Regions from separate parts of the Homo sapiens genome. Here region 1 is linked to region 2. The links come from fine-mapping of genetic effects on gene expression. A gene starts in region 2. The other region holds a variant in brackets. All regions are shown on one strand. Distances are from middle to middle. Region 1 holds the start of LINC01013 (long intergenic non-protein coding RNA 1013). Region 2 holds the start of CCN2 (cellular communication network factor 2).

Evidence for each region.
Region 1: its variant is fine-mapped to the expression of CCN2 in whole blood (TOPMed, PIP above 0.99).

The regions. Positions count from the first base shown.
Region 1 is chr6:132,125,406-132,141,089 of GRCh38, reverse strand. LINC01013 (long intergenic non-protein coding RNA 1013) reads right to left here and starts at 8,518. Exons shown (of 6, transcript NR_187602.1): 1 at 8,379-8,518; 2 at 6,607-6,818. RefSeq lists enhancers at 7,684-8,185, 7,954-9,153. The variant A/G (reference allele first, on the strand shown) is at 7,621.
Region 2 is chr6:131,944,015-131,959,698 of GRCh38, reverse strand. It overlaps CCN2 (cellular communication network factor 2), which reads left to right and starts at 8,327. Exons shown (of 5, transcript NM_001901.4): 1 at 8,327-8,592; 2 at 8,707-8,929; 3 at 9,156-9,407; 4 at 9,539-9,750; 5 at 10,139-11,523. The coding sequence starts at 8,527. The coding sequence ends at 10,435. All of the region lies in intron 2 of CCN2-AS1 (CCN2 antisense RNA 1), which reads right to left.

The sequences.
Region 1 (15,684 bases), 180 kb before region 2:
AAAAGGACTAGAAATACAATGTCGTTTCTATGGATTGTAGATTGAACTTATGTTTATTCTTATTTTCTTATTTTTAGGTTTCAAACCAAGCTCAGAAATTTTTGAGAGGGATCTCAGTCACCAGCAGCATGTACTAATTAATAATGATTTTCAATTATTCCACACAACACATGTGGAACAACTCAACCTTTGACTTAGAAATGGAAACTAATTTTAAATTTGATTTAGTGAATAATTAACTCATGAGATTTATCTACATTATGCTAATATGAATATCTTTATGCAAAACCAACAAAGGAAGCAAAAATTCACTCATTTAAATAATGTAAAAAATATATATATATTAACAATATAGGTGAGGTTTTAGCTTTTTCCTGGAAGGACAAACCATACAATGCTATAGCATGCATGTTTATAGGATTAATTAATTTACATTCTTCTTACTCCAAAACAATCTTAGGCTATTTAGAAATGATTCTACCCTATTTTCCCATGCACAGTCATCATCATTAGTAGCTGTATTGATCAAAGTTCTATCTGTGAATCTTGGAAAGCCACGCTTCATGTGTAGAAATCTATGCCACCCTTAGGCAATGCAACAGAGCCAAGAATAGCAAGAAGCACAACAAATAGCAGCTGTGGCTCTTTGCATGTGTGGTACCATTTAGGCTAATGCCCAGGATAGCATATCATTTGTCCAAAAGGTGCAGCTGCACCAGCTGGCAGACTGTTGAAGGCGGCAAAAACACAGAAGGCAGAAACTGGCACCGATCCTTGCCTCTCCCCAAACCCACTCAAGTTCTTGCAGCACTACTCTGTGCAATGTTCACAAAGAGTCATGGCCAGCATTTGGGCAAAACATGCAATATGACTTGGCTGAAGAGCAGGTGTCATCATTTGACTCAGTCACTGGTAGATGCATCTGAAATTAAGTGTATTAGTTCACCACTGCTGCATAACAAACCACCCCAAAGCACAGGGGGCTTTAAACAGCAATTACTTATTGCTTACACCTATGTGGGAAGGATGGGGTTCAGATGATCTAGGTTGGACTTGGCTGGTGGCTTTTTTTTCTCACTGTGATTCTGTGAATTGACCAATGCATCTCTAGCCTATGTGTATTCATTCTGGGGCTCAGGCTGAAGGGGCAGGAGCGACCTAAAAGGAATCTTCTCATGTCAGTGACACAAATGCAAAGGTGCAAGTGGAAATACACTTACAGAGCTTTTAAGGCCTAGGCTTAGAACTGGCATATTGTCACTTCTGCTCATATGCTATTGATCAAAACATGTCACATGGCCAAGTTCATATTTAAGCAGGGAAGAACCACACTTTTCACATGAAGAGACCATGGAAAAGGCTTAGATAGGTTCAGGGACACATAAAGAGAATTAAGTTCAACATATTTATCTGACATATAAACCCATTACTTTTTACAGAAAAGAGGGATGATTATGATGACAACGGCAATAGTAATAATAGTAGCTATCTTGTACTATGCATTTGCAATGGTCCAGGCACTCTTCCAAACTCTAGATAGATAGATAGATAGATAGATACATACATACATACATACATACATCATACATACATACATACATAGCTAGGTAGATAGATAGGCAGATGAAGTTCCATGTAATTCTCACAATAATCTTATGAAATAAGTATTACTGTATCCTCCTCTTATAGACAAGGCAACTGAGGTAGAGAGGGGACTTATAAGAAATATAATGGATTATTATTATTATTATTATTATTATTATTATTATTTTGAGACAGGATCTCTCTGTCACCCAGACTGGAGTGCAGTGGTGCAATCATGGCTCACTACAGTCTTGACTTCCCAGGCCCAAGCAATCCTCCCACTTCATCCTCCTGAGTAGCTGGGACCACAGGCGTGCACCACCATGCCTGGCAATTTTTCGTGTGTGATTTTTGGGTAGACAGGGTTTTGCCATGTTGCCCAGGCTGGTCTTGAACTCCTGGGCTCAAGTGATCTGCCCACCTTGGGCTCCCAAAGTGCTGAGATTACAGGCATGAGCCACCATGACTGGCCAATACGGGACAATTATTAAATTAAAAGAACAATATGTGCTCATTTTCTTAACCTATGGTACAGGAATATTATGTGAATTATGTTCTGTAACTTAAGGATTGCCTCCCATGATATTTACTGTGTTGGGAGTAGAAATAGACAATCTGGATGAGCATGCCATGGTCATCAAGGAAGAGAGACATGAACATGATGTGCTCATCTCTGGGGTTTACCTACAGAATGTGCACATCAGTAGAACTTAGTAGCAGTGACCACCAAAACAAACTGGTAGACTTTTGAGGAGGAATTCAATTTGCTTTCTATTTCTTTCAGGTTTGAGGCTTATGGAAATCTGTACATGGAGGAACCTGTGGGGTTTGAAAATGGAAATCCTTTGCTCGTTTATAATTTAGAGCACGTTGGGAAAGATGAATTCTACAGAAAGGGGAGAAGCAGAAGCTGTCATTTCCTTTTTAGCAGTAGTGGGCAATGTGGGGAATGGAACAGACAACAGATACGGGATTTTACAGCAGCTTCTGGGAAATTTGCTGAAAACCTGCCCCAGTGCCACAGCTGTGGCTGAGATCAAGAGTCATAGGGTAGTTTCTTATGATTCTTGCAACTTCCTGAATTCCTCAAAGGTTACAGTGGCTTTGTCTGGCCCTCACTCCTCAAATGGACTTTTTTGGTGCCTAATTCCCTATGTTTAAGTCTCCTCCTGTTTGAAGTCTCTAGTTGACTACTCTAGTTGATGAAATGAAACCTGTTTCAGGTGATGAGTGTTGAAAGCTTGTAAACAGGGATACATTCAAACAATGATGATACATTTGCTCAAAAGAGAATGATTATCTTAAAGATATCCTCCAAAGTAAAAAATTGATCAACAGAAAATGATATCTTAATAACAATAATCTAGATGTAAAGGATCTGTTAACAAAGATTAGGATATGGGCTTGGCAGACAAGTTGTCAAGTGGAAGAAGGTGTACTTCACAACTAGAGAAGGTCACTTAAAAACCCCACTTTTTAAAGGTATAACTGACAAAAAATAACAGCACATATTGAATGTATACAACTTTAGTTTGGAGATAAGTACACATCTGTGAAATCATCACCACAATCTATGCAATAAACTTATCCATTGTCTCCGAAAGTTTTCTCTCACCCTCTTTATTATTTGTGATAAGAACACTTAACATAAGATCTATCCTCTTACCAAATTTTTAAGTATATAATACAGTACTTGTAACTATAGACACTACACTATACAGTAGATCTCCAGGGCTTGTTCATTGTATATAACAGAAACTTTGTGCACTTGGAGCAATAACTTCCCATTTCTCTCACCACCCCCTCCAACTCCCGGTAACCATCATTCTATTCTCTATTACTATGAGTTTGACTATTTTAGATTCCACATATAACTTAAATCATACAATATTTGTCTTTCTGTGCCTGGCTTGTTTCACTAGCATGATGTCTTCCAGGTTCATCCATGTTGTCACCAAAGGCAGTATTACTTCTTTTCTAAGGTTAAATAATATTCCATTGTATATATATATCACATTTCTTTATCCATTCATCAGTCGATGGACATTTAGATTGATTACATGTCTTGGCTATTGTGAATAATGCCACAGTGAACGTGAGAGTTCAATTACCTTTTAGAGATCTTGCTTTCAATTCTTTTGGATCAATAACAGAAGTGGGATTGCTGAATCATATGATAGTTCTATTTTTAATTTATTGAGGAGCCTCCATGCTGTTTTGCATAGCGGCCGAAGCAGCTGCACCCATTTACATGCCCCCTAACAGTGTACAAGAGTTCTCTTCTCTCCAGATCCTCGCCAACACTTTTTATCTTTTGCTTTTTGGATAACAGCCATTCTAATGGGTGTGAGATTCATTGTGGTTTTCATTTGCATTTCTCTGATGACTAGTGATGTTGAACATCTTTTCATATGTCTCTTGGCCATTTGTAGAAAATGCTATTCTTGAATTCATTTTCAAAATATACATTGAAGTCTGTTTTTGTAAAACTTAACAATAATCATCAAATTAAAAACTAGATGTGTCAGTCTCAAATCATTTAATAATATTCAATCAAGAATAAAAAATTTAGAAAGCAAAACTCATTAGTTCTTTTATTTACTCAGCAATTATTTCTTGAAAAGCTGTAAGTGCTAAGCAGTACTTAGATGCTGGGGGAAGTAACAGAGAGCAAAAGATTTGAAGACAAATCCTTGCCTTCATGGAGCTTGGTTTTAGAGTTTGATATAGACAATAAAGATGTTAAGTACTAAGATGCTTATATAGTACTTTAAAAAGAAGATCATTATGGCTGGGTGCAGTGGCTTGCCTGTAATCCCAGCACTTTGGGAGGCCGAGGCGGGTGGATCACCTGAGGTCAGGAGTTTGAGACCAGCCTGACCAACATGGAGAAACCCCATCTCACCTAAAAATACAAAATTACCCAGGCATGGTGGCACATGCCTGTAATCCCAACTACTCAGGTGGCTGAGGCAGGAGAATCCCTTGAACCTGGGGGCAGAGATTGCGGTGAACCAAGATCATGCCATTGCACTCCAGACTGGGCGACAAGAGCAAAACTCCATCTCAAAAAAAAAAAAAAAAAGAAGAAGATCATTACTATGAAAGATAAAATGGATATGAGGAATTCTGGGGTGTTAAGTTTGCAATTTTAAATAGGACAGTCAAGGTAGGCCTTATTGAGAAAGTGATATTTGAGTCAAGACTTAAACTAAGCAAAATGCGAGCCATGGAGATAACAAAAACAAGATTTTTCCAGGCATTGGAAATTGTTTTTGCAAAGAAGCTGAGGCTGGGATGTGCCTGGCATGTTTGGGGAAGAACAAGGAAACCAGTGTTGCTTAGGTGCAGAGTTTCTGTGGAAGAAAAGAAAAAAAAACTCGGAGGAAATAACTTATTTAAGAGTTAAATTGAACAGTTAGCTAAATAGCAACAGAGGAAGATCTCAGTGTTTCCAGTTATTTGGCTTTTCTTTTTTTTTAACACCTTATTAATTTACTTAGCTAATGAATTAGCCAGGTAGGAAGGTAGGTGGGTGGGTAGGTAGGTAGGTAGATAGGTAGCTAGCTAGTTTTAAGGAGGTAATACATGCACACCGTATACAATTCCGAATTTCCAGTGGTCTGAAGGAGTGTGCACAGTGAAAAGTCAGCCTCTTTGATGCACTTACACAGTGTCTCCCTACCCACAAGGATCCAATGTCACTAGTTCTCCTATGTATCTTTCCAGAGACATTCCATGACTCTTTCTAATATTCACTGCCAATTGAGGCAATTTGGAAAAGCAGAGTGTGTCACTGAGATCTCGACAAAGTTCGCTTTCATAGACGCACCTGCATCTTTGTACAGTAATTACAGACCCCGAAAGAGGAGGTCAGCCCAGATGGTGCTCATTTCATATGGGTGGGGTGGGGCCTATCTTGTGAAGTCACCAAGTCACCTCATGAAGAAGTGACATGGGTGTGGCCACTATTTATTCTGACAGCTATTTTTGTTCTCATATCCAGAGGAAGATTCCGTGGCTGTCGTTTCTTGTCATTTTCCCCCAAGTATAAGGAGTGATTTCACTGCATGCATGAAAACAGGTGTAATGAAATTTAAAAAGAAATGGTAGGCAAAAATAAATAAATGCAATAATAAAGTGAATAATAAATGGAAAATTTCTGTGTTTCACCAATCAATATGGACCAGGGACAATGCGTTCTTTGTTTGATAAAAGTTAGAAATCCAAGTTTTTCCTCAAGTGCAGCCAAACTACATGTAATATATACTTTAGGCATTCGGGCATTTCCCTTATAGGTAAACAAACAGCAAGCCATAAAATCTTCTGTATTTCTTTGATGTTACAGACAGTCTTCTGTTTTATCATGGGCTGCAAGTCTGATTCTGTTCTGTGAGATGTCTTGCATAATTTTCTAGTAGTATCAAAAAAAAGTGCCATACAATCAGAGTCTACCTCTCCAACGATAGTAAGATAAAGGATGTTGATTTCTTCAGGAACATTCCTATGGCCCTAGCATTGTCATCACTCAACAGCCTGTCTCTATAATGACTACTATATTTTCTAAGACACCATCTCTGGAATTAAAGTGTATCTTTAGCTTTGTACTGGTGTTTCCAGTCCTTGAATTCCCCCAACTTGATTTTTCTTAGCCTAAAAAATGACCTAAATTTCCTTTTCTTTTATGTTCTACCTCTTTTTTGCCTCACCTAACACATGTAAACCACCATAAAAGTTGAGTAGTAGCTCTCCTGTTTTTCCCCTTAAGTTTTTTACTTACTCCAATACACATTTATTCTAGAAGGACATTTTGGTTCCAGCATATCCTCAAGTTAATGATATCATAATGTATGCTTCTGACTCAGTTTGAAAATCCAAATAGATTAATGACAGTAAAGACTTTTGAGAAAGTAAATAAATATATTAAGGATGCTTGAGAGACAAGTAATATAAATACAGTCCCCCAAAACAAGTAAAGAGAAAGCTGTGATTCAGTGATAGCAACTTTTACCTGATTCTTACCTTGTTCTCCCACTGTACTGCCTGCTCCAGGCTTCTTTTCCCAGCATAATCTATCCAGACCACTTGTGTTTAGTATCCAAGTGTAGCTCTCCTTTGTTCCAGGCTGAGGTCCAGGATATAAAGCTGATGCAGTCACAGGTTCTAGTGGGTTAAATAATACTTGGGCACTGCTGGATGCCAACTAGCACAGTTTTCTGGAGATGATGTCTTAACTGGAAGAATGGAATCCATTAGTTGGAATTTCAGTTGCTGACTGATCAGCAGAAGAAATATGTGGGATAAGAATGTCTTCTGCAGCCCCTTAAGTCAAACCAGATAGGAAACTGCCTCCTCAGACTGCACGAGGAGTCTACTGAAATTCTGATTTTCTTAAATGTACAGCAAAGAAGTTTAAAACACCAAAATAGGGCACAAGAGAGTTATTGTAATATTAGTATCAACTTTAGGTGAGAATTTAGTCATTAAATATAATTTACTTCCTATTTATTAAAAATGCTGGCTTCCTGAAGTCATTCATAAGGAAATGAATCTGTGAGGCATAACTTGTGATCACAGCGGGGGGGTGAGGAAGTCCTTCAGATGCAGCTTCGTGGGGAAAGCGTGAGGAACAACTCAACTGGCTTCCTATGTGAAATAGACAGATTTGTCTCTAAGACGTTTAAAAAAGAAGAAGAAATAATAATTTATAACTTAGAAATTAAAACTGTTGAATGCCTCATCTAAGATGAGGCAGCACTATCCATTTCAAGGATTATAAAATGAGAGAAGTATGATTTGTAGAAATGAAATAGAACTTTTTCTAAGGGAAGCTTATAAACTTGAGACTACATATCAGACAAGTTCACAAGTTTGGGGAAAAGGGGTACATGTGTAAGCCTCTCATGTTGGGCTAAGAAAAGGAAAAAGTTGTTGGGTCTTGAGTTTAATTTTTAAATGTTTTGGTGAGTAGAAATGAGCTCATATAAATAACATTTCCTCTTTTGTGCTTTGCCTAAACTATTCTTGTAAATTGTG[A/G]TCTTTAGCCACACCAATCCCCAGAGTTCCTCAGATTTCTGCTTCAGTGCTGCTCATGTCATAAACAGAATTCTTATAAAAGCATTTTTAGAATGTAAAATCTGCAGTGGTCCAGAGATGAAGCTATGTTTTAAATAGACCTATATTATTAGTGAAAATATGGTGTAGTACAGCACACAGCACAGAGAGCCTGAGGGGTCCTGGTCCTAGGCCCAGCTCTTCTGCTGGCCATGTGGCAATGAATGCTTTGTGTCTCCGATTTTTCACTGGTGAAAGAAGAGGGATGAAATGAATGGCTCCTCAGTTATCTTCCAACACTGAGAATCTGCCTTTGTTATGTAAGAGTAGCCGGGCTTTCACTCAGGCCTGATCATGAATAACAATCTTAATAGTGGTGAGTAATGCACAGAGTCACTTTTCCACAACTAGGAGAATCTTGGGTCTTGAAGAAAACCTAGGAAATCATATCACCTTGTCCTCCATTGCCAGTGAGGGCTGCATCTTCATCCTTCAAATACGCTCTTTCAGGCTAATCTAAACAACTCTTCCCAAGGGGCAAACTTCACAACTTCTATGTCCTTAATGGCAGAAGTTCTTCCTTATGTTTGGTCTGAATCTCCCTGCTGAATTTGCAATTTATTTTCATTTGTCCTATCCTTAGCAGAGAGGGAGCACAACTGGGGCACACATTCAAGTGCTATCTATTATTAATCTGAGCCATAGTAAATTTGTTTGTACTAGAGTTTCTGGGGTCTTACATTGCATTCCAGTGAGATGATAGAACCTGATCCCTTGATGGAATGTTCTTTTTGAGGTCTAAAATGACTGAACGATAAAGGCTAACAGGCTGGCAGGAATCCTGAGCAGTTCTTGATAGTGGTCACAGGAAAGGGCATTGTTTCTTTGGCTGTCCAGTCTCCTAGCAACCTAGTGTACAGCGGCTCTTGACATAGGGCTCTCTGAAACCCCACATTTAGAACTATTAAACTATTTCTTCTAAAATTAAATATGTGCTCAGGCAACTGTATTTTAAAAATCTGATAAAAAGGTAATTTTTCCAATAGCACCTGGTGCTTAGTAGAGATAGGGAAAACTGATGAAAGGGAACATAATTATACCATCTAGCCCTACCCACTGCTTTCTGAAAGGTGAGCTCTTATTATGCCCATTTTACAGACAAGGCAGATGGACACACACTGAGAAACGAACAATGCTAACAATATCAACAGTTTAAGAGGGAAACGTTTAGGATTTGGAAAAGCAAATGAAAGCAGGTTTACCTTGCTGACACTCAAAAAGTAATAAGAGCTCCCTATTCACTTTCTGCCTCCTCCTAGTCATGTGGGTGTCCTGTGAGAGGCACAGAAGAGGAAAAAAGTGGTATTCCCTGGGGATGGACTTTCCCAGCCTCCTCCAGAGCAGTCCAGGTTTGTGAATCAATGCAGGAGGTGGGGGTGGGAGTGGGAGGGGTTGGCCAGGCAAGGCTTTCCCTTTACCCACACAGGCTGTGATTAAGAAGGCATCCATCTGTCAACAGAGGCTCTCAGCTGTATTTCCAGCCCAGCTTCCTCCCAACTGACTCATTCAGTGATGCCACAATCTAATGTTTATGACCTAACAGATGATCACCATGGAAGTAGCACAAACCTTGGACTGTTGAGGAGCAAAACCAGCGTAGAGGAGCTGGACCGTTTAGGAAAAGAAAAAATGAAGACCCTTATTCATAGAGACCACATGTTAAGACTGAACATCCCACTCCTCATGTGGGCATTTCCACCCATTACTAAAATTGATATTTGGATGCCTTCGTGCCTGTTGGAGAACCCAAATAAGGATTTCAGGTGACTGAGTACAAACAGATAGCATGGCATTTAGAAACAGACAGCAAGAAGTAGAAGGGAAAATGTGTGTGCAGCAATTTAACGAGGTTTGGATTACAAATTCAGTTTCCTTATCTTTTTGCCAGCATGTGGCAACAGTTCTAAAGGAGACAGAAAATGCATTGAATGCCAGGAGAAAGATGAAGATCCCCCCAAACTCAACTTTATAAACAGTCCTGGTGGAATATTCACAATGTGGAAGTCAGGATAAACTGGCTATTCCACCCGCCACTGCCCCCCAGGAAAAGAAAAGCCTAAATGAATAAGAAAGCCAACGGAAATAAGTGCTTTTTAGTAAAGATCATCGCATTTGGTGCTGTGAGTGGCAGGAAGCGTTGGCACAGACTTGGGAGCTACATGAGGACTCCGGTGGCGTGGTCAGGGTGAAGTGAGCCTGACTTCCTGGCCTGGCCTCCCCAGACTAATAATCAAAAAGAGCTGCCCTTCCCCAGCCCTAAACAGCCCTGTGTGAACACAGTGTCTCCTAGTAGTGCCTGTGGCTTACAAGTAATGTGAGAGTCTTTTTATAACTGTTGAGGTTTAACGTAAAAGGAAGCTCAGAATCAGCGGTAAAGGGAGGGGAATGTTGTGAACTACAGACCATCTGAAATGGGGAAAATCATAAATACCAGAGTGTCTGATTATTTGAATGTCTCTTGAAGTCAAATAATGAACCTTCTTCATGTTCTGCTTTTCTGGACTTGGCTCCCTCTGACAAATTTGCAGGCATCAGGGTCTGTCTGGAATTCCTTCCAAGTTGGAGGGATATTTTTTCCCTTGACATTTTGCAGCTGAGACAGCCGGAGCAGGAAGCTGAGGAGCGTAACATTACCAAATATGTCCTTTCTCCTGCCCGTAAGTTCTATTTCCACAGGAAAAGAAGGCAGATGCTGGCCAATGAGAACTGGCCAGTAGAAATGCAGCCACAGCAGGCGGCCTCTACTGGAAGTGAGGAAATTGATCAGATGCCATTTTTCACAAAAATGGAAACTGTTCTAGGTACCACCAATTAAAATTTGTGCTACGCTGGAGGAAGAAGTTTGACAGGTTCCTACAAGTTGCCCAGCTATTTCAGGGGAATTCTTTATCACTCTATTGGTCTCATTTTCTCAACACCCCTGGAGTGGGAATTAGAGAGTTGGCCTTGGCTGCTGACACACTGTGCTTTTGACCAGATCATTTCTCCTAGGATGTGGGGGAAGCTTCAGATGCTTTATTGCTAAAATGAAGGTTTGGATGTGATGAGCTCCCAGATCCCCTCTGGGTTACCAAGACTGTGGTCTCCAAGCTTCTTCAATCGTGTGTTTCAACCACTAAAATAAATCCAAATATTTGTCCAGATGCTTTTCTTTATGGGTCTAAGACACTAATCTCAAACTATCGTATCTACATGGTCTAGGAAAGAACATAAGTGAGCAAAATAGCTGCAGATTGCATACTCTTTGCTTGCATATTAAATACAGTCAGTTCTCCATATCCGCAGTTCCACACTAGCAGATTCAATTAACCTTGCATTGAAAATATTTTTGAAAACAATAATACAACAATAAAAAATAATACAATTAAAAAAATAAGATAGCCATTTACATGCCATTTACATTGTATTAGGTATTATAAGTAATCTAGAGGCGATTTAAAATATAGGGAGGATGCGTGTACCTTACATGCAAATACTACATTTATACAAGGAACTTGAACAATCTGTGTCTTAGAACCAATCCCTTCCTCAAACCTCACCCTTATCCCCACCCTGCTGATACCAAGGGCCTGCTGAATGTAAGAAAATTCTTTTTTTTTTTTTGAAACATAGTCTCACTCTGTCACCCAGGCTGGAGTGCAGTGGTGTGATCTCAGCTCACTGCAACCTCTGCCTCCTGGGTTCAAGAAATTCTCTGCCTCAGCCTCCTGAGTATCTGGGATTACAGGTGTCCACCACTACGCCCGGTTAATTTTTGTCTTTTTAGTAGAGACGGGGTTTCACCATCTTGGCCAGGCTGGTCTCGAACTCCTGACCTCGTGATCCACCCGCCTTGGCTTCCCAAAGAGCTGAGATTACAGGCATGAGCCACCGCACCTGGCCAGAAAATTCATTTTTTAAACATAATCTTCTTGTTTCATCTTTATTTATCCTACTTTTAAAAGAGAACGCTTACTGAGAAAGTTCTTTACTGAGGAAAATAACAACCTATGCATGTTTTAAATGGCCAGCAATGCTTAATGTTGAGTCAAGAACACTTTGGGGAATGGTAGAAATAGGAGTAATCTGGAGCATGGACACCCCATTGGTCCTAATGTGGAAACTGCTTCTCCAGTGGGTCACCTTCAAGCAGAAATGGAGGCCTACTGCTGTTCAATTGTGATTTTTCAAGAGAAATGGGAAACTCTATTTTAACGTGAAATTGAGTTAATTTCAAATATTTTGTCTCAAAAATTTTAGAGTCAAGATTTGAGGACAAGTGTATGATGGCAACGGGCCACACTCAGCCAATGAGTAGCTCCTTGGTGATCTCTGATCTAATATTCAGCTGATTTAGCTAGCCCTATAATTTTTTTGTGTGATAATATTGGAACTTTGCAGTCAGACCTCCATACTCCAGTCAGGGTAATTATGTATGTGTAAGGCAGAAAAACATGAAATATTTCATTAATATCACAGTGTTTTTCTTTGGAGCCACTTCTTGAATCTTCTTAAAGCTGCTCCATCAGACTAGTGATCTATGTTGTTCAGTCATGAAAGTAAGGAAAATATTCCATTGCTCTTGATATAGTTGTCACTTTTGCATATGAAAATCTCACAGAAAAAAATGTATTTTAAACAACATTAGATAAGATTGGCAAACTTTTTTTGTAAGGGTTCAAGCAGTAAATATTTAGGCTTTGTGGACCATATGGTCTCTGTTGCAACTGTGCGTGACTGTGCAAAATCAACCATAGACAATCCATACACCAATGGGCCTGGCTGAATTCCAATAAAACTTTATTTATGCAAACAGATTGTAGGCCAGATTTGGCCCACAGGCTGTAGTTTGCCAACTCCTGTATTAGATCATAAGCTCTTCTAAGTTGTAACCTGTACCTCATTCAACTCTGTATTTTCAGGCTACACAATCCTGGCACAGGGGAAGCACTCCATTAACATTTAAAAAAATAAATTGAAGGTTGTTGAACCTAGCAGTTTATGACAATCATAATTAACTTCCCATTTACATGATTGAAACTTATAGTAGTGTTTATAGGTTGTGTTCACTCTGAGACTTACATCAGCATTTGAACCTCCTCAGAGAGTTTGTGGCTTAATCTCACTGTTCAAAATGAGGGAAGGAGGTGCCCAACCAGACTCATGCAGCAACCTAATGGCTTGCTTACACCTCATTCTGAGACTGATGGATCAAAGATCAGGAGCCACAAAAGGACCCTCATGATTTTACAGAGAGGCTCCTTTACAAATCTTTACCTCCACTCTTCCTTTGACAATTTAAATGACCCCAAACCAAGCATCTATGGAGTCCTTACACTGCTGCACAATGGTTTTCAAAATGCTGGTTATGACACAGTGCACATATACTAAAACATTTCCCAAAGCAATCCTCATCCTTATGAAGGGTAATTCACTGGGATATTTTCCCTTTGCTTATATTTTATTTATTTTTTAGTGCTGATCATAACTCTCTAAATTGATTTTAGAGAAATTTTTCTAAGTAAAAATGAGATCAGAAGTCACCAAGCTGCTGTCCATTGGCTGGGTAGGGCCCTTGTCAGCATCCTATGCTTGGCTCTAAAATTTATGAGCCAAAGTTTTATTTTCAAAATGTCACTGGATGTGACATTTTGTTTGAAAACCAAAGAAGCAGGCTCAGTTCTGTCCTTTGGGGATTTACAATTAAACTGGAGACATAAGACACAGATATCCGATGTCTATGGAATACCTCCTGAGATCTGTTAGGAGACAGGTCATAGTATTTGTGCCACCTGGAGTTCTTCACTGGTGATAGCTGGCATTTTGACAATCATAGATAAGCAGTGTCATTGGTCTGGGCTGGAGCCTTGCACATGGAAACCTGTCTAAAGAAGAGAGAAAGAGAGAGAACTGAATTGGGATGAGGACCCACTTTAGAGAAAAAAAAAATCCAAGTAAAAAGGCATCAGAAATGGTTTTTTTTCACCCAATTGCATTCCCATGGTGAATGAGGAGAACCCAAACTGAAATCAAGATTTATTGGCTGGAACAGTGTGTGAGAGGATTAGAGGAGAATGAGAGCTCAACCTGCTTGACTTCCAAAAGTCAAAATGGAGTTACTGGAGGAAATGGTCTGGAGAAGAGCTTAGTTTTTTTAAATGAAAGTAACTCTGTGGAGAAAGGAGAAGATAAAATTTCTCCAACGCTCCAGCCAAGACCAGTGAGGCCAATCTAGACATGCAGTTATTTTTTAAAATTAAGTATTTTCTTTTTGGTTAATAAGTTTGTCAAACCTGGCACAGTTTTGGAAAGATAATGGGGAAAAGAGCTGAGATAGTTTGGGGTGGATAATGCGGAAGAGAGCTGAGATAGAAACTTGGGTAGCCAAATGGTCAAGCAAATTAATTAGTTTTGATAGCCATATCCAAGTTATGGGCAAAATATACTAACTGACCACCATTTGGCAGTAGGTGTGGGGAGGTAAGGAATGAAGGGATTGGATTTGGCAGAAAGGCCCCATAATCAAACACATAAAAGCAACCATATGGATTTTCATCAACATAAAGAAATTAGCCAACTGCAAATTCTGATAGAAAACCTCTGAAAGTGAGAACCAAACTATGTAGGAAAAAAATTATATGAATAGAAAGACCTATAAAATAGTTTGGGACACATAAATTAATGTTAAAGACATGTCTATTGAGAATCAGAAACAAAGGACTGCATAAAATGACTTAAGAGAAAGGGAGATAAGGTGGAGGGAAAATAGGAGGTTTAATATTAAAACCTGGAAGAGGAGAAAATATTAATTTTCATTATTGTTATAGACTAAATGTTTGTATGCCCCCCAAAAATTTACAAGTTGAACCCCTAACCCCCAATGTGATGATATTAGGAGAGGGAGCCTTTGGTAGGTGATTAGATCATGAGAGTCAAGTAATGGATGAGATTAGGGCTCTCGTAAGAGAGACATCAACGAACTCCCCCTCTCCCCTCCTGCCATGTAGGATACAATGAGAACATGGATGTCTATGACCAGAAGGGGGCCCTTGCCAGATGCCAAATCTACCAGTGCCTTGACTTTGGACTTCCCAGCCTTCAGAGCTGTGCAAAATAAATTTCCTTTGTTTATAAGCCACCTGGTCTATGGTATTCTGTTATAGCAGCCTAAATGGGCTAAGATAATTACTATGCAGAATTCTAATTTTATGGAAAGAAAAATCATAACAACAATGAATATCTTATTTAAAGATTATTTTCACTTTTACAACTCTACAATGGGATTTTCATTTCAAAGGGCTTTATGAAATACACAAGTAAAAGAAATAAGAAAACAATAATGAAGCCAAGTGATAATATTCTCTATTACATGAATGATGGCATCATAGATATCAGGAGTCTGGTTTTGCAACACTTAAGGGAGGGTGTCTATAATTATCTCCCAATGATGTGAACCTTCACCTAATTTTCCTCAAAATATAATTAATTTTAAAGCAATTTTAAGAAATCTTGGATGTTATAAGTCCAGTGCTATTATGTCCATCAAAAACCCAACTCCATTATTTTGTTGACATGCTAAGTTTCACATAGCATTTTAATGAAAAAAAAAGCCATATTTTTAAAGTGATACGTCATATCATATACTCTCTCTTACAGTTTAGATTTCATTCTCCAAAAGGTTTCTCCTAAGTCTCTGCCATATATTAGGAATAAATGGAATCTTTTGTAGTGATCTTCTCAAAGTTATGGTTTTAAAGACAAGACTTATTGAGCTTGATCTCAAAGTGCTAGTCAAGATTTCTTAACTTTTCTTCAGAAGAGAAGGTGTAGGTCTTTATCCCAAGACTAGTTGAGAAATAATTGAGAATAAAAACAAGTGGCATTCCAGGTGCAAATCATTGTGGACTTATAGGAAGAAAAAGGGAGAGAAGGGGATGCCTCCTGGAACCTGAAGCAAGTGTCTTATAATGAGACACATAGTGTCTGATTGCTCATTCAAATATTCAA
Region 2 (15,684 bases):
TACTAGTGTCTTCCCCACCTCACTGCACCTTTGCTTTTCTAGGCCTAGCTTGGTGGAATATTGGGCTGCCAGAAACAGTACAACAGGAGTATTTCCCTACCACCAGCAATGCCAGGAAAAATAAGGAAGTCCAAGTAAAATGACCCCCTGCAACACTTTAGTAAAGGATGCCAGGTGATGTAGCTATGACATAAATACATTTGGTGAGTGGCTTCTGCCTTGTGGCCTCCTGCCCTCACATGCAGGGTCTAAGAATTCTCCTCGTCCTTGGCGCTTACGGTAGACAAAATGGCTTCCAGATGGCCGTTTCTGCTCAACATAAGGTCATTTTCCCTTCTTGGAAAGTTGGATATGATGCATGAGAAATACAGGAGTTTGGACTTCTCGAGTTCACTTTAGATGAAGGCCAGGCTTCAGTGTGTAAAATGAGAACACATGAGAGAAAAGTGGTAACACCACACTGTGGGTCCCCCCTCTCGGGGAGGCTTCAGAAGCTGACAAGGAAAAACCAGCTTGACCCATGAGGGATGGGCCTGCCTCGAAAGCGATCAAAGCCAACCAGGGAGGATACATTTGACTGTGGCAGTGCTCAGCCCTACTGCAAAGCAACATTGGTTCAAAGTCCATCTGAAACTGGACTGGAAGTTTGCTTGCTTACCTTCTGAGCTGAAAGCAAATAGTAGGAGCCTCAGCAATCAGTCAAATACGGAAACAGCAGGGAAAACCACAATCAAGAAGAACCAACATAGAGACGTTAGAAATGATGAAAATGCCACAAAAGATTCAATTGGACAAAATAAGTTTTTATCATCTGTATATGAGAAATAGCTTAATAGTGATATTATTTCCAGACATGAGCAAGTCAATGGTTATATGAAATGTAATCCTGTAGTTGTTAACTTTCACACACATGTGCAGGTCAATAAGAAAATTCCCTCATCATAACCCCACCATTCCTAGACAACCCTCTCTCTCTGCCATGTGTAGTTATGACAAATCGCATTCCATTAACAACATGAAACTAGTTATGATTCCAATCAAATCCTTCCATGGTTAAAGGAGAGAGGGAGAAAGCTGTAAACCTGAAAGGCAAAGCATATTCAGTTTGAGGAAAGTGCATTTTCAGTTAAGGCAAGTTCATAAAATAAATATCAATAACATGGCAGGACATGTTTATTAGGGGATACTCGTGAAAAACCTATGTTGATAGTAGACATTGCTTCAGTGCTGATGGTTTGTCCCAGACTCTGTCATGATATTTATCCCTAAGGGTAGCTTATCAGTGAATGATACAATTATTCAAGAAGACCTTCATGATGTCTATGGTTGGTCCCAGTCTCAGCCGAAACAAGACTGCATAGGGTTAGACTGAACGCTTTCAGTGTGGGCTGAGGCTGACATCAGAGCAGAGCACACCCTGATATTAAGCCTCCCAAAGCATACCCATCATCTTATTCATTTTTTCCTTTTTTAGCTGCATCAGTTAGTTAGCGGATAAGAAGAACATATCTGTCTACATAGCAACATCACCAAAATCTTAATTGTTAAAAAAAAAAAAAAAAAGCAAATCTAAGCCCAAATTTCTCTACTAATACAGGTCAGTAAACATTTTCTTTCTACTTCATGTTTATCTCAGACCACGGCACAATACAATAGTGACTGCCAGTTAGCCCACAGGTGTTTATATGCCTTCTAGGGTGTGTCCTTTAAGAGTTTAAGATCTGAGATAACTATCTTAAGGACACACAGTGTTTAGAGATCACCATATATAGAATGGAAAGAAAAGAAGCCGTGAAGTTTGGAAGGAAAGGCAAGGGGTGTTCTCTTTAGAAGAACTGAATTTAAATTCACTTGTCCCTTCTCCACCTCTAACCAGGCTTGTGTATGTTAGCATTATTGGACCTCAATTTCCTCACCTGCAATATGGGTAGAATAATACCTAATGCGATTGTTATGATAATGAAGTAAGATGGTAACCGTGAAAGGGCTTTGTAAATTAAAAATTTCTACATAAACAAAAGAGAATGCAGTCAAAATTTTGAGTATCTATTTTAGGCACCCAGATAGAGTTCTAAGAAGCGTTCCCGCTAAATTGTTCAGATAAAATTGGCATCGTGCATTCTAACATCAAATTAAACAATGCATTAGTTGACTTTTACTTCAAATCTGATGATGTCAGGATTTTAAATAGAATGTGGTTTTTCTTCATATGTGGTGAAAGTTCTGACTTAGAAGATAAGATACCTTCTCAAAAAGCCTTATCCAGGTGCTCAGATTTTAATATATGATTCCCATAGGCATGGTTATTTAAAGATTTACACACAGGAAAATAGTTTAGAAACTCTTTGGATGATTCAAACAACTTGGTTTTTAGCATTCTAGAACATACTGGCTACCAAGTTTGCTTTTAATTTGAAAACTTGTCACCATCATGGTAGCACAGTTCACATTACAAAATGAAATGAAAGAAAACTGTCAACCCAAATATATGTAAAGTGTTAAAGTCTGTAGCATCACATTAAGTAAAATACCACCTTGGTTTCCAAGAAATACAAATCTAAAGAAAATGTGATGGACACAAGCAATCATAATTTTTTGGTTGTTTCTTTATCATTTGCATACCATATTCTTATTAGTGATAAGTTACACATTTTTCACTGAAGAAAGGAAGACTGTTAGGAACTCCCTAACTCTCCCCATCCTCCACAAATCAATGAAAACTATGAACATATAATGAAGATGAAGGGAGTAGATGCTATCAGGTGACAAAAATAAGCTGAGCATAGAATTTTGTTTTAGGTATCCTGAAAACTATGATTAAAATGCATGCCCACATTATCATCGAAGTGACAATATAAGGTATATAAGAAGCATAAGACAAATTTAAAAGTTTCATCTGTGGCCCGGCGCAGGGGCTTACGCCTGTAATCCCAGCACTTTGGGAGGCTGAGATGGGCTGATCTCTTGAGCTCAGGAGTTCGAGACCAGCCTGGGCAACATGGCAAAACCCCATCTCTACAAAAAAAAAAAAAAAAATTCTTTTAATTAGCTGGATATGGTGGTGCACACCTGTAGTCCCAGCTATCCCAGCTACTTGGGAGGCTGAGGCAGGAAGATCACTTGAGCCCAGGAGGCAGAGGTTGCAGTGAGCCAAGATCATGGCACTACATTCCACCCTGGGAGACAGAGCCAGACCCTATTTCAAAAAGAAAAAAAGTTTTCATTTGTTAAATGTCTCTATCAATCCTGAATATCTAATCTAATAAAATAAATAAATAAATAAGAGGTAGGATTTGATTTTCTCTGAGCTCTCACCTAGTTTTAACACTCTAAAACCCATGCAGAGCTGGACACTGTTATAAAATCAAACTGTGACAGGCTTTTACAGTCAATCTGAGTTGGGCTTAGTTTTGAGAGCCACTGAAGAATGGAAGAGAAGGGCAATTTTAAAACTCTAATACCTTTATGAAAGTGCTTTCATAAATATTGTCTCCTTGAGCTGCACATTAACTGTGAACAGGTGGGAAATTTCAGGCTCAGAGAGAGTAGGTGTCTTCCCTGAGGTCACTGGCAAGCAAATGGCAGGTATGGAGCTCACACCTTCACCTCCTAGCCAGTCCCCTAGGCTCCACCTAATGGTATTCCAGGGAGTTTGAAGTTGTGAGAAGGGACCTCAGGCCTCTTGGCTAGAGGTGGGAGCACATTTCCAGGGATGAATGATGGGGTCTGGCTTAATCTGCACCCCTTTCCCACCCCGCAGCAGAATCCCTAGGAATACATTCATGTATATTTCACACTAGTCCTTTCAAAATATTTATCCTTTCACTTACTTCTATTATTTGAGATAAGATAGCTAGTCCCAATTCTCTCTTCCTCCTAAACCTATTGATTGGGTGTCCCCAAATCACACATCTTAAGAAATGCTTATTTCCTCTGTTTTTCATTCCCACTCACTTAAATATCACCTTAAGTATCACCAAGGGGATGCTTCACATTTAGCCCTGATGAAGCAAGGGGCTGTAAATACTCCTGGTTGCTAAACGGTGATGAATTTGAGATTCTAACCTGTCGAGGACAGTGTAAGAGACCACCAGGCTCATTCCTACCTAGCAGCATCCTCATCTGACACTATCTTAGATGAACAAAAGCTGACTAGAGGCAACACAGGATTCTAAGTAAACTACTTTAAAAAAAAAAAGAGTCAAATTAACAAAATAAGTGAAACAAACAGTAAGTTGAAGGGATATCATCTTACAAAACAAAACTTCCTTTCTCACCCCTCTGGCCTCCAACTCTATGGACAAGCGAGGAACAGGCAAACATAAAACACAAACCACATGCAACGGCCTTGACTGCCTTCTGACAAATACCTTTGCATTAGAAAATATCCTAAGAAAGTCAGAGAACTAATTATAAGGAGGAAAAGGCATGAAGGTAATGAATGTAATTTAGATAGTAAACATCCGCGTTTATCTTCCCCGCCATGAACTCCCAGCAAGTACGCCCTCTCCTTAACCTTCATCTTAAGCAAACAGGAGGTCATGTCAGCCAAACCAGGGTCCCTGAAGATTTCAGAATAATATTTATTACTATTTTACAAAAGGCTTCTGGGATACCATTTTTTTTTGTAGAATTAATTTACATGATTGAATTTGAGGCACGCTAGAAACATCAGAAACCTCCCCCTGACCCACCATAAGGACAAATCGCTCACTGTCCAGATGCCCATATACGGCCAGACTTCCTCCTATAAGTCTGACAGCTCCGTGTATGCATTGCGTATGGGTCTTGGCTCTGAGTCACATTCCTCCGGCATGTTTCCCTGGGAGCTTTGATTTCCGCTTTGAGGGCTGGCACTGACTCCTACTTGCTCTTATAAGAAAATGTCTACAACTAAAAGTTGAAAATGTGCAAGATTCCTTCTTTAAGTACACAAACACTCCAACTCTGGCCACTTTTCTGTAGTCCTGCCAGGTTTTCTCTGTGTCTGATACCTGATCAAGAAACCTTTTTTTTTTAGGGAGGAAAAAACAACAAAAAACTTAAGGGAAGGAATGTAATACATCCACAGCTGAACATCTTACAAGACTTAACCAAACGACCAGTACAAATGATGCCCTAGTAGACACACACACATACCTTATATAGCTTGGTAAACAGGACTCAGTGGCCAGCTTAGTTAATTCCTCATTTTACCACGAGGAAAAAATGCTCTCTAAAAAGCATTTGCTAGATAAATACTTGCTTACAAGTCAAAATTAGTGCATCTTAACCATTTTGCACACAAATTCAAAGATCTTTTTCTCCCAACTCTGACCTGCTGTCAATCAAAGGGGCTGGGGTAAGTCAAAGTTGGATGAAGTTATAAGAAGCCACTATTTCCCACTTTACCGCCCAGGCACACACAAACATTTGCTGAGTCATTGATAATAGTGCAAGAATTCAGATCCCATGGCATGAATTATGGATGGAGTATCAGCCTTTCCCTTTGAGTTTCCTGGCATTTGATGGTCCATATCACAATAAAAACATACTTCTGAGTCTGTGAATGTCTTGGGTGTCTTCTCTCATTCTCTCTCTCTCTGGGTGTGTGTGCATGTATGTGTCTGTCTGTCTCTGTGTCACTCTCTTAATAATAGTCTTTTAACTCCTTCAAAAAGAGTTTTGATCATAAAGCCTCAATCTAACCTGATAATGCACAGAAACTTTTTCTTTCCTGAGATTTCATATGTTCTATATATTTCAATATGCTTATTTCCTCTTAAGCAACATTAAAATCATCTATTTGGAACTGACTATAGATTTTTTTGAGACTTCGAGGGACTATGAGAATTTTATAGTAAAACCAAATTCTTTCTTTTGACATTTTTAACAACAGAGCAGAATGGTAATATACTTATTATACACAGAGATTGAAAAAAAATCAAGAAAATCTGAAAAAAATAAAGCACCAATTCCCTGGAATTTTCATCTACTCAGCCCTCACTGAACCCTATTAAATTAAAAAAATTATGATTACTTTCATTTTTTAAACAGAAATGGGAATATGGCTCCTACGTGTGACTTCCCTGAGATCTGCGAAAGGCAGTTCCAAGAATACAACCTAGGCCATCTAACTATAACCCAGTACAACAATTTATCCCCTCCATGAATGAGTCTCCCTGCTGCAGGCATGAAGATGGTGGTAGCTTTCAGACTCTCCTGAGGATTCAGAAATTCCCCAACCCTTCTCCCACCTACCTCACTCTGCAAGCTAGGAGAGCTCACCACCAAGCCCACATCCCACCTTAGGTGAGACTCGCACTGCACATCCCTACCCTTCCCCAGCCACCACACCTTTCCAACCATTAGAGGTAGATGTAATTGGGGGTTTAGGTCTTGAAAGGTTTCACTGTGGCTTCCCACATATTTTGGACTTTTAAAATCATCCACAAGGGAAGAAAAAGTTGAGGGCCAAGTTGCCTTTAATACACATGTGGCTATTAAGTTAACTTGGAATGTTCCTTCTTTAAATAGGAACTCTTAGGCCTCTTCTTTTTGAGGAATGCTTGGAAAGGACATTAAATAACAATGACGAAAATTCTTCCTGAGCTTCAGAGGGCACCCCCACCCCTTTGCTGGCCATTCACACTATTGACATGCAACTACACTCTATAACATGTGGCTGGCTTAACGAGGTAATCGTGCACAGATGATATGCTCTATGCTGAAGTTGGAGTGGTTATATTTCTTCTTGGCTATTTTTCAACAGACTGTACTGAAACTTTAAAAATTTGATCAGTTTAAACAGGCTGTTTTCAAATGATAAATCTATAATGCATTGTTTCTAAAGCCGATCTTTGCACCACAAACAGATATGCTTATCTTGAACCCATGCTCTGAAGCATCAACAACTTAAAGGAATCTACTCATTGGTAACACCAATGTCAAATGATGCGGCATTACAGAATACAAAAATGGTATGGCCCTAGAATCACTCTCTTTATATAAAATGGGAACTGGAGGTATTAACAAAAAAGCCACTAAACAACATAGATTCCAAATGAAAGCACAGTGAATTAGTTGGGTCTTTAGTGAAGCTAAGTAGCACTATATTAAGAAATGGAGATATGCTTAGGTTTATTGGCCATATTCAACATCTGCACACACCCAGGGAGAATAAAGCCTATTCTTTCCTTGTCCTGACCTCACTCCCTCAGGCTGCATGTTCCTTGGGTAATGAGAAGTCACAATCACTATTCATAGATGTGTGGGGAGTCACTAAAAATATATTATTCACTGTCAATCTTAGTTTATATCCAGATACAACAGGGTACACTGCTCTTGTAATGGAATCAGACTTCTTATTTTAACAAGACAAACCAAATCCAATCCACATTTGAAGATTATAGGTTTTAATATAAGAAAATGCACTCATTTCTCAAAGACCCTAGTGAAGCTGTGTTTAAATGCTCCTAGGTGAACCCCCTTTGCATCCCAGTGTTCCCACCCTGACACCCAGAGCCCCTACCTACCCAACACAGAATCATTTGCTCTGATAGAACAATGGATCCCTTTTTCTGGAAACATTGATGGCCACTCCTCCCTTGTCCTTGCCTATATAAAACTCCTACATATATTAAGAGAAAACTAAGCAAGAGTTTTGGAAATCTGCCCCAGGAGACTGCATCCTGAGTCACACGCGTCTTTGTTCTCTTTCTTGTCCCAAAACCGTTACCTCAAGTGACAAATGATCAAATCTCAAATATAGAATTCAGGGTTTTACAGGTAGGCATCTTGAGGATTTCAAATGGTTAAAAGCAACTCACTCCTTTTCTACTCTTTGGAGAGTTTCAAGAGCCTATAGCCTCTAAAACGCAAATCATTGCTAAGGGTTGGGGGGGAGAAACCTTTTCGAATTTTTTAGGAATTCCTGCTGTTTGCCTCTTCAGCTACCTACTTCCTAAAAAGGATGTATGTCAGTGGACAGAACAGGGCAAACTTATTCGAAAAAGAAATAAGAAATAATTGCCAGTGTGTTTATAAATGATATGAATCAGGAGTGGTGCGAAGAGGATAGGGAAAAAAAAATTCTATTTGGTGCTGGAAATACTGCGCTTTTTTTTTTCCTTTTTTTTTTTTTCTGTGAGCTGGAGTGTGCCAGCTTTTTCAGACGGAGGAATGCTGAGTGTCAAGGGGTCAGGATCAATCCGGTGTGAGTTGATGAGGCAGGAAGGTGGGGAGGAATGCGAGGAATGTCCCTGTTTGTGTAGGACTCCATTCAGCTCATTGGCGAGCCGCGGCCGCCCGGAGCGTATAAAAGCCTCGGGCCGCCCGCCCCAAACTCACACAACAACTCTTCCCCGCTGAGAGGAGACAGCCAGTGCGACTCCACCCTCCAGCTCGACGGCAGCCGCCCCGGCCGACAGCCCCGAGACGACAGCCCGGCGCGTCCCGGTCCCCACCTCCGACCACCGCCAGCGCTCCAGGCCCCGCCGCTCCCCGCTCGCCGCCACCGCGCCCTCCGCTCCGCCCGCAGTGCCAACCATGACCGCCGCCAGTATGGGCCCCGTCCGCGTCGCCTTCGTGGTCCTCCTCGCCCTCTGCAGCCGGGTAAGCGCCGGGAGCCCCCGCTGCGGCCGGCGGCTGCCAGGGAGGGACTCGGGGCCGGCCGGGGAGGGCGTGCGCGCCGACCGAGCGCCGCTGACCGCCCTGTCCTCCCTGCAGCCGGCCGTCGGCCAGAACTGCAGCGGGCCGTGCCGGTGCCCGGACGAGCCGGCGCCGCGCTGCCCGGCGGGCGTGAGCCTCGTGCTGGACGGCTGCGGCTGCTGCCGCGTCTGCGCCAAGCAGCTGGGCGAGCTGTGCACCGAGCGCGACCCATGCGACCCGCACAAGGGCCTATTCTGTCACTTCGGCTCCCCGGCCAACCGCAAGATCGGCGTGTGCACCGGTAAGACCCGCAGCCCCCACCGCTAGGTGTCCGGCCGCCTCCTCCCTCACGCCCACCCGCCCGCTGGAAAAAGAAACCGCTCGGACTGAGTTTCTTTCTCCAGCTGCTGCCAGCCCGCCCCCTGCAGCCCAGATCCCAACTCGCATCCCTGACGCTCTGGATGTGAGAGTGCCCCAATGCCTGACCTCTGCATCCCCCACCCCTCTCTTCCCTTCCTCTTCTCCAGCCAAAGATGGTGCTCCCTGCATCTTCGGTGGTACGGTGTACCGCAGCGGAGAGTCCTTCCAGAGCAGCTGCAAGTACCAGTGCACGTGCCTGGACGGGGCGGTGGGCTGCATGCCCCTGTGCAGCATGGACGTTCGTCTGCCCAGCCCTGACTGCCCCTTCCCGAGGAGGGTCAAGCTGCCCGGGAAATGCTGCGAGGAGTGGGTGTGTGACGAGCCCAAGGACCAAACCGTGGTTGGGCCTGCCCTCGCGGGTGAGTCGAGTCTTCCTCTAAGTCAGGGTCGTGATTCTCTCCCAGGGAGGGAGTCCTAACTGTGCCGACCGAACGGGGGAAATACCTTATCCAGGCGTTTTACATGGTGTTTGTGTGCTCTGCTCTCGCAGCTTACCGACTGGAAGACACGTTTGGCCCAGACCCAACTATGATTAGAGCCAACTGCCTGGTCCAGACCACAGAGTGGAGCGCCTGTTCCAAGACCTGTGGGATGGGCATCTCCACCCGGGTTACCAATGACAACGCCTCCTGCAGGCTAGAGAAGCAGAGCCGCCTGTGCATGGTCAGGCCTTGCGAAGCTGACCTGGAAGAGAACATTAAGGTACATGTTCTGCTCCTATTAACTATTTTTCACAGGAAAAACAGTGGATAGGACCCAACTTAGGGCTCTTGCCACGCTTGTTAGTATAAGCCCGTTATCTCCAAAACTATCTAACCATTGAGCTGTTTTGCTGGAATGAGAGCTTGTGTAATAGCAACCACCAGTTTTCCACTACGAAATCTTCCACAGGGTTAGTTAATTCAAGACATTCCAAGAGAGGCTCTGGCTATTTTTGGACATAGCAAATGAGACTCAAACTTCCTCCCCTCAAAATATAAACAGAAGTCAGACAACAGAAGACTAAAACACAGAGGGTTGAAGAAAGCCACTCCTCTTGTAGAGTCGCTGATTTTTTTTTTTCCTCTCTCTTTTCCCTTGTCTTCCTTAGAAGGGCAAAAAGTGCATCCGTACTCCCAAAATCTCCAAGCCTATCAAGTTTGAGCTTTCTGGCTGCACCAGCATGAAGACATACCGAGCTAAATTCTGTGGAGTATGTACCGACGGCCGATGCTGCACCCCCCACAGAACCACCACCCTGCCGGTGGAGTTCAAGTGCCCTGACGGCGAGGTCATGAAGAAGAACATGATGTTCATCAAGACCTGTGCCTGCCATTACAACTGTCCCGGAGACAATGACATCTTTGAATCGCTGTACTACAGGAAGATGTACGGAGACATGGCATGAAGCCAGAGAGTGAGAGACATTAACTCATTAGACTGGAACTTGAACTGATTCACATCTCATTTTTCCGTAAAAATGATTTCAGTAGCACAAGTTATTTAAATCTGTTTTTCTAACTGGGGGAAAAGATTCCCACCCAATTCAAAACATTGTGCCATGTCAAACAAATAGTCTATCAACCCCAGACACTGGTTTGAAGAATGTTAAGACTTGACAGTGGAACTACATTAGTACACAGCACCAGAATGTATATTAAGGTGTGGCTTTAGGAGCAGTGGGAGGGTACCAGCAGAAAGGTTAGTATCATCAGATAGCATCTTATACGAGTAATATGCCTGCTATTTGAAGTGTAATTGAGAAGGAAAATTTTAGCGTGCTCACTGACCTGCCTGTAGCCCCAGTGACAGCTAGGATGTGCATTCTCCAGCCATCAAGAGACTGAGTCAAGTTGTTCCTTAAGTCAGAACAGCAGACTCAGCTCTGACATTCTGATTCGAATGACACTGTTCAGGAATCGGAATCCTGTCGATTAGACTGGACAGCTTGTGGCAAGTGAATTTGCCTGTAACAAGCCAGATTTTTTAAAATTTATATTGTAAATATTGTGTGTGTGTGTGTGTGTGTATATATATATATATGTACAGTTATCTAAGTTAATTTAAAGTTGTTTGTGCCTTTTTATTTTTGTTTTTAATGCTTTGATATTTCAATGTTAGCCTCAATTTCTGAACACCATAGGTAGAATGTAAAGCTTGTCTGATCGTTCAAAGCATGAAATGGATACTTATATGGAAATTCTGCTCAGATAGAATGACAGTCCGTCAAAACAGATTGTTTGCAAAGGGGAGGCATCAGTGTCCTTGGCAGGCTGATTTCTAGGTAGGAAATGTGGTAGCCTCACTTTTAATGAACAAATGGCCTTTATTAAAAACTGAGTGACTCTATATAGCTGATCAGTTTTTTCACCTGGAAGCATTTGTTTCTACTTTGATATGACTGTTTTTCGGACAGTTTATTTGTTGAGAGTGTGACCAAAAGTTACATGTTTGCACCTTTCTAGTTGAAAATAAAGTGTATATTTTTTCTATAAAGGGCTTGGTTATTCATTTATCCTTCTAAACATTTCTGAGTTTTCTTGAGCATAAATAGGAAGTTCTTATTAATCATAAGATAATTCACCAATAATTTTCTAAATATCTTTAATTATTCTATACATTAATAAATTGATTATTCCATAGAATTTTTATGTAAACATACTTCACACTGAATCAAGTATCACAGACTTGCAGGCATACACACCACATTGACTATACAGCCATTTTTTTTGTTATCTTCACAGAACTTTATAGACACTTTAAATTCAATTCTCTCTAGATTACTTCAGTCTCCATTAACCCTGTTGTATTACACTTGGTCCTTTTGGCATTTGTACCTCTCTGGCCGTTATAGGTTAGTTTCCAACCCTTCACATCACAAACTAGTCTATGTGCCTTGCACGTGGAAAATGTTTACATTTTTTAAAAATTTTATGCTCTAGGTCTGTTTCTGAACTTCATTACCTTACTGTTAAATCTGAAAATTATGAAATGAAATCCTCATTTAAATGGAGCTATTTCATAAGTCTTGTTTTGTATAATTCCGTTTTTGGTTGCCATGATAACCAATGACAAACAGATGGCATAAATAGAAAAGGGAGGATGAGCAAATCTTCCATTCATTAACATTAATAGAAATTTGTTTTGAAAGTAATTCCTCCATTTGCCCAAGTCTTTAGCTTTATCAGACTTCCAGATTAATGCATCCTACCTTACCAAGTGGTTTATACATGAGAAAATGGAATTGTTCAAGAAGCCTCATGTGGAAACAATATTGTACCTACCCAGGTAGGTTTTTACTAAAGAGTGAACCAAAGTGAATGGTAAACAAAAGCAATACACCAAAGGCAACTAGAATCTTCTCCACATGAGGATAGCTGAGGATTCTAGGGGAAAAAAAAATTGCAGACAGACTAACTTTTCCCAAGGTAATTAGCAACGTTGTAGTGCCAATGTCATTTGGACAGACAAAAATACACCTGAAAATAAAGACTAGCTCTACAAACAACTGTCCACACCACAAACCAAAGGGAAAACTTCCCGTGTTCAGAATGTGAAAATTTATGGTCAAAACTCTGGGCTTTAAGGATACACCCACATCTGTATATAGCAGTGCTGCCAGGAGCAGCACCCCACCTCCCCAAATAAATGCGCATGTACACATACACATAGGCACACACACAGAGTACACTGTTAGTTCACACTTCCTTTCTGTCAATTAATTCCTAACTGCAAAGATGAAGGGCCATGCATGATAAACGAGACTGACTACTGAATTAGAGCATTCTGGAAATATAGAAGCAGCAGGAAAAGCATAGATTTCACATTTTCCAAATACCCACATTAAAGAAAAAAAAAAGAGTCACTAGATTGCAAAACAAAAATCCCACAGGCAATGTTTCTACAAAAATTAGATGGCAATGCACACTTTCACCCCCCAAATATCGGAGGTAGGGGGTGCCAAATCATCAACCACCGTAAGATCTGCACCGTGTCAGCACATGTGTGAGAAAAGCAGAGAAACAACAAGGTATCTGATGCTTCTGAGAACACGAGAGCTCTCAAACAGCCAGCAGGTAGTCACTAGATATATAGAAGGCCAGGCTGACAGCAGCTGTTGAATCTAGTAGGGGTTTGGCCTAGCACTCCAACAAAGCTTACAAGCCAGGGCTGCCTCCCAGGAGAAGATCCTCATACTCCTGGAAGTGGAATCTAAATTGAGCAGGTCACCAGACAGATGTTTCTCAAAAGAAGACACACAAATGGCCAACAAGTATATGAAAAAATGTTCAACATTACTAACCATCAGGGAAATGCAAATCAAAACCACAATGAGCTATCACTTCACACCTGTTAAAATGGCTACTATCAAAAAAACAAAAGATAACAAAACTGTCAGCAAGGATGTGGAGGAAAAAAAACCCTGTGCATTGTTGGCAGGAATGTAAATTAGTACGGCCATTATGAAAAACAGAAAGTTCCATAAAAAATTAAGAATACAATTACTATATGATATAGCAATCCCATTACTGGGTATACACTCAATGAAAAAGAAGTCAGTATGTTGAAAAGATATCTGCACCTCCATGTTCATTGCAGCAGTATCCACAATAGCTAAGTTACAGCATCAACCTAAGTGTCCATCAACAGATGGATGGATAAAGAAGATGAGGTATATATACACAATGGAGTACTATTCATTAAAAAAGAAGGGAATCCTGTCATTTGTGGCAACATGGATGAACCTAGAGTACATTATGTTAAGTGAAATAAGCCAGGTTACAGAAAGAGAAATATAGCACTATCTCACTCATATGTGGAATCTAAAAGGTTGACCTCATAGAAGTAGAGAGTAGAATGATGGTTACTAGGGGATTGGGGTTAGGCAGGAAAGTTGGGGAGATGTTAGTCAAAAAATATAAAATTTCACTTAGGCAATAAGAATAAGTTCAAGAGATCTATTTTACAATGTGATGACTCTAGTTAATGATACATTCTATTCTTGAAAAATGCAAAGAGAATGGTTGTAAAGTGTTCTTAGCACAAAAACGCTAACTCTATGAGGTAATGCATATGTTAATTAGCTAGATTTAGTCATGCCACAATGTAAATATACTTCAAAACATCATGTTTTACATGATAAATTAGGACTTTGTCAATATAAAATAAAACAAAATAAAAATTGAGTGGGTCAGGGACAACAGAGACATTGAAGGATTTGGATTAAAATGAGGAGGGAAACAGAGGTTTAAAATCTCAGAAGGTAAACTGCAATATTTTTAATGCTGCATGAAAACAATAAAAGAGGGAGGTCTGTGAATTTAGAAAATTAAACCAAACCTCCTTCCTGAGCAAACTTTAGTAAAACTAATTTTATATAAATTAAGAAAACAAAATTATTGAAGCCAAATCCCTACAAAGTCACTATATTTAAAAAAAGAAAATAAAGAATAGAATAACTTTTCTGCAGATAATAAAAAATGTGAGAAATACATATCTACAAAATATAGAAAAATTATAACCTACTATTTCAAAAGTTTAAGAAAATGATGTTGGACATAAATGATATTAATAGTAAGGAAATGATGACATAAAATAGCAACATAAATCAGAATTAGCAAAACTTAAAAATATAGTTTCAGAAATCAACAGAGATTTAGAAATAAAGGAACTATATCAAACTACAAGGAGCATAAGAGTGAATATACTCTTACAGATAAGAAAACAAGTTTAAATATAAAAGAAGAAATAAACATATTGCAATAAAAAGTAATAAATATTGTGGACAGGCAAAGAAAATCCAATATGTGGAGGGTAGAAATTCTTAAAGAAGAAAAAAAAATCCTAAAAGCTATAAGTCAAAAAAAACTTTACTAGAATAAAAAAGTATTTGAAAGCACAAGTTGAAAGGGTGTGCCATGTGCCTAAACAAATCAACTAACAGCAAAACACATTCTAGTAAAACTGCTGGAGTTTAAAGAAAAGGGAAAAGCTATTTGAACATGAAGACAAAAAGAACATGAGCCTTATAAATAAAAAGAAAATTAGCTCATCGTTAGATTTTTTTTACAGCAATACTTTATGACAGAAAAAAATGGAATAACTTATTTAAGATACTTAAGGAAAGAAAATGAGAGTCAAGAAACTTTTATCCTCTAAAACTGATTTTCAAGAATGACTTGATTCTTGAAATCAAACCTTGAATGACTAGGTTCATCCCTGTTGTCACAAATGACAGGATTCCCTTCTTTTTTAATGAATAGTACTCCATTGTGTATATATACCTCATCTTCTTTACCCATCCATCTGTTGATGGACACTTAGGTTGATTCCATAACTTAGCTATCGTGGATAGTGCTGCAATGAACAGGAAGGACACAGACAAACTGTTAAAAACACACAAGAACTCAGGGCATATTTTTCCTGTGAGCCCTTGCTGAGGAACCTACTAGCAAACAAGCTCAAACAACACAAATGTCTGAGAGATACTAACCTAAGGACTGTAGTGAGAATTGAATATAGCTCACCTTTAGAACTAAGACTGAATGAAGGTTAAAAAGGAGAAAGTACTGTATACAGTGTAAAAAGTAGAACATTTCTGCCTGTTTATTTGCATATATTTATTGGCATATATATTTATTTGCATATATATTAGAT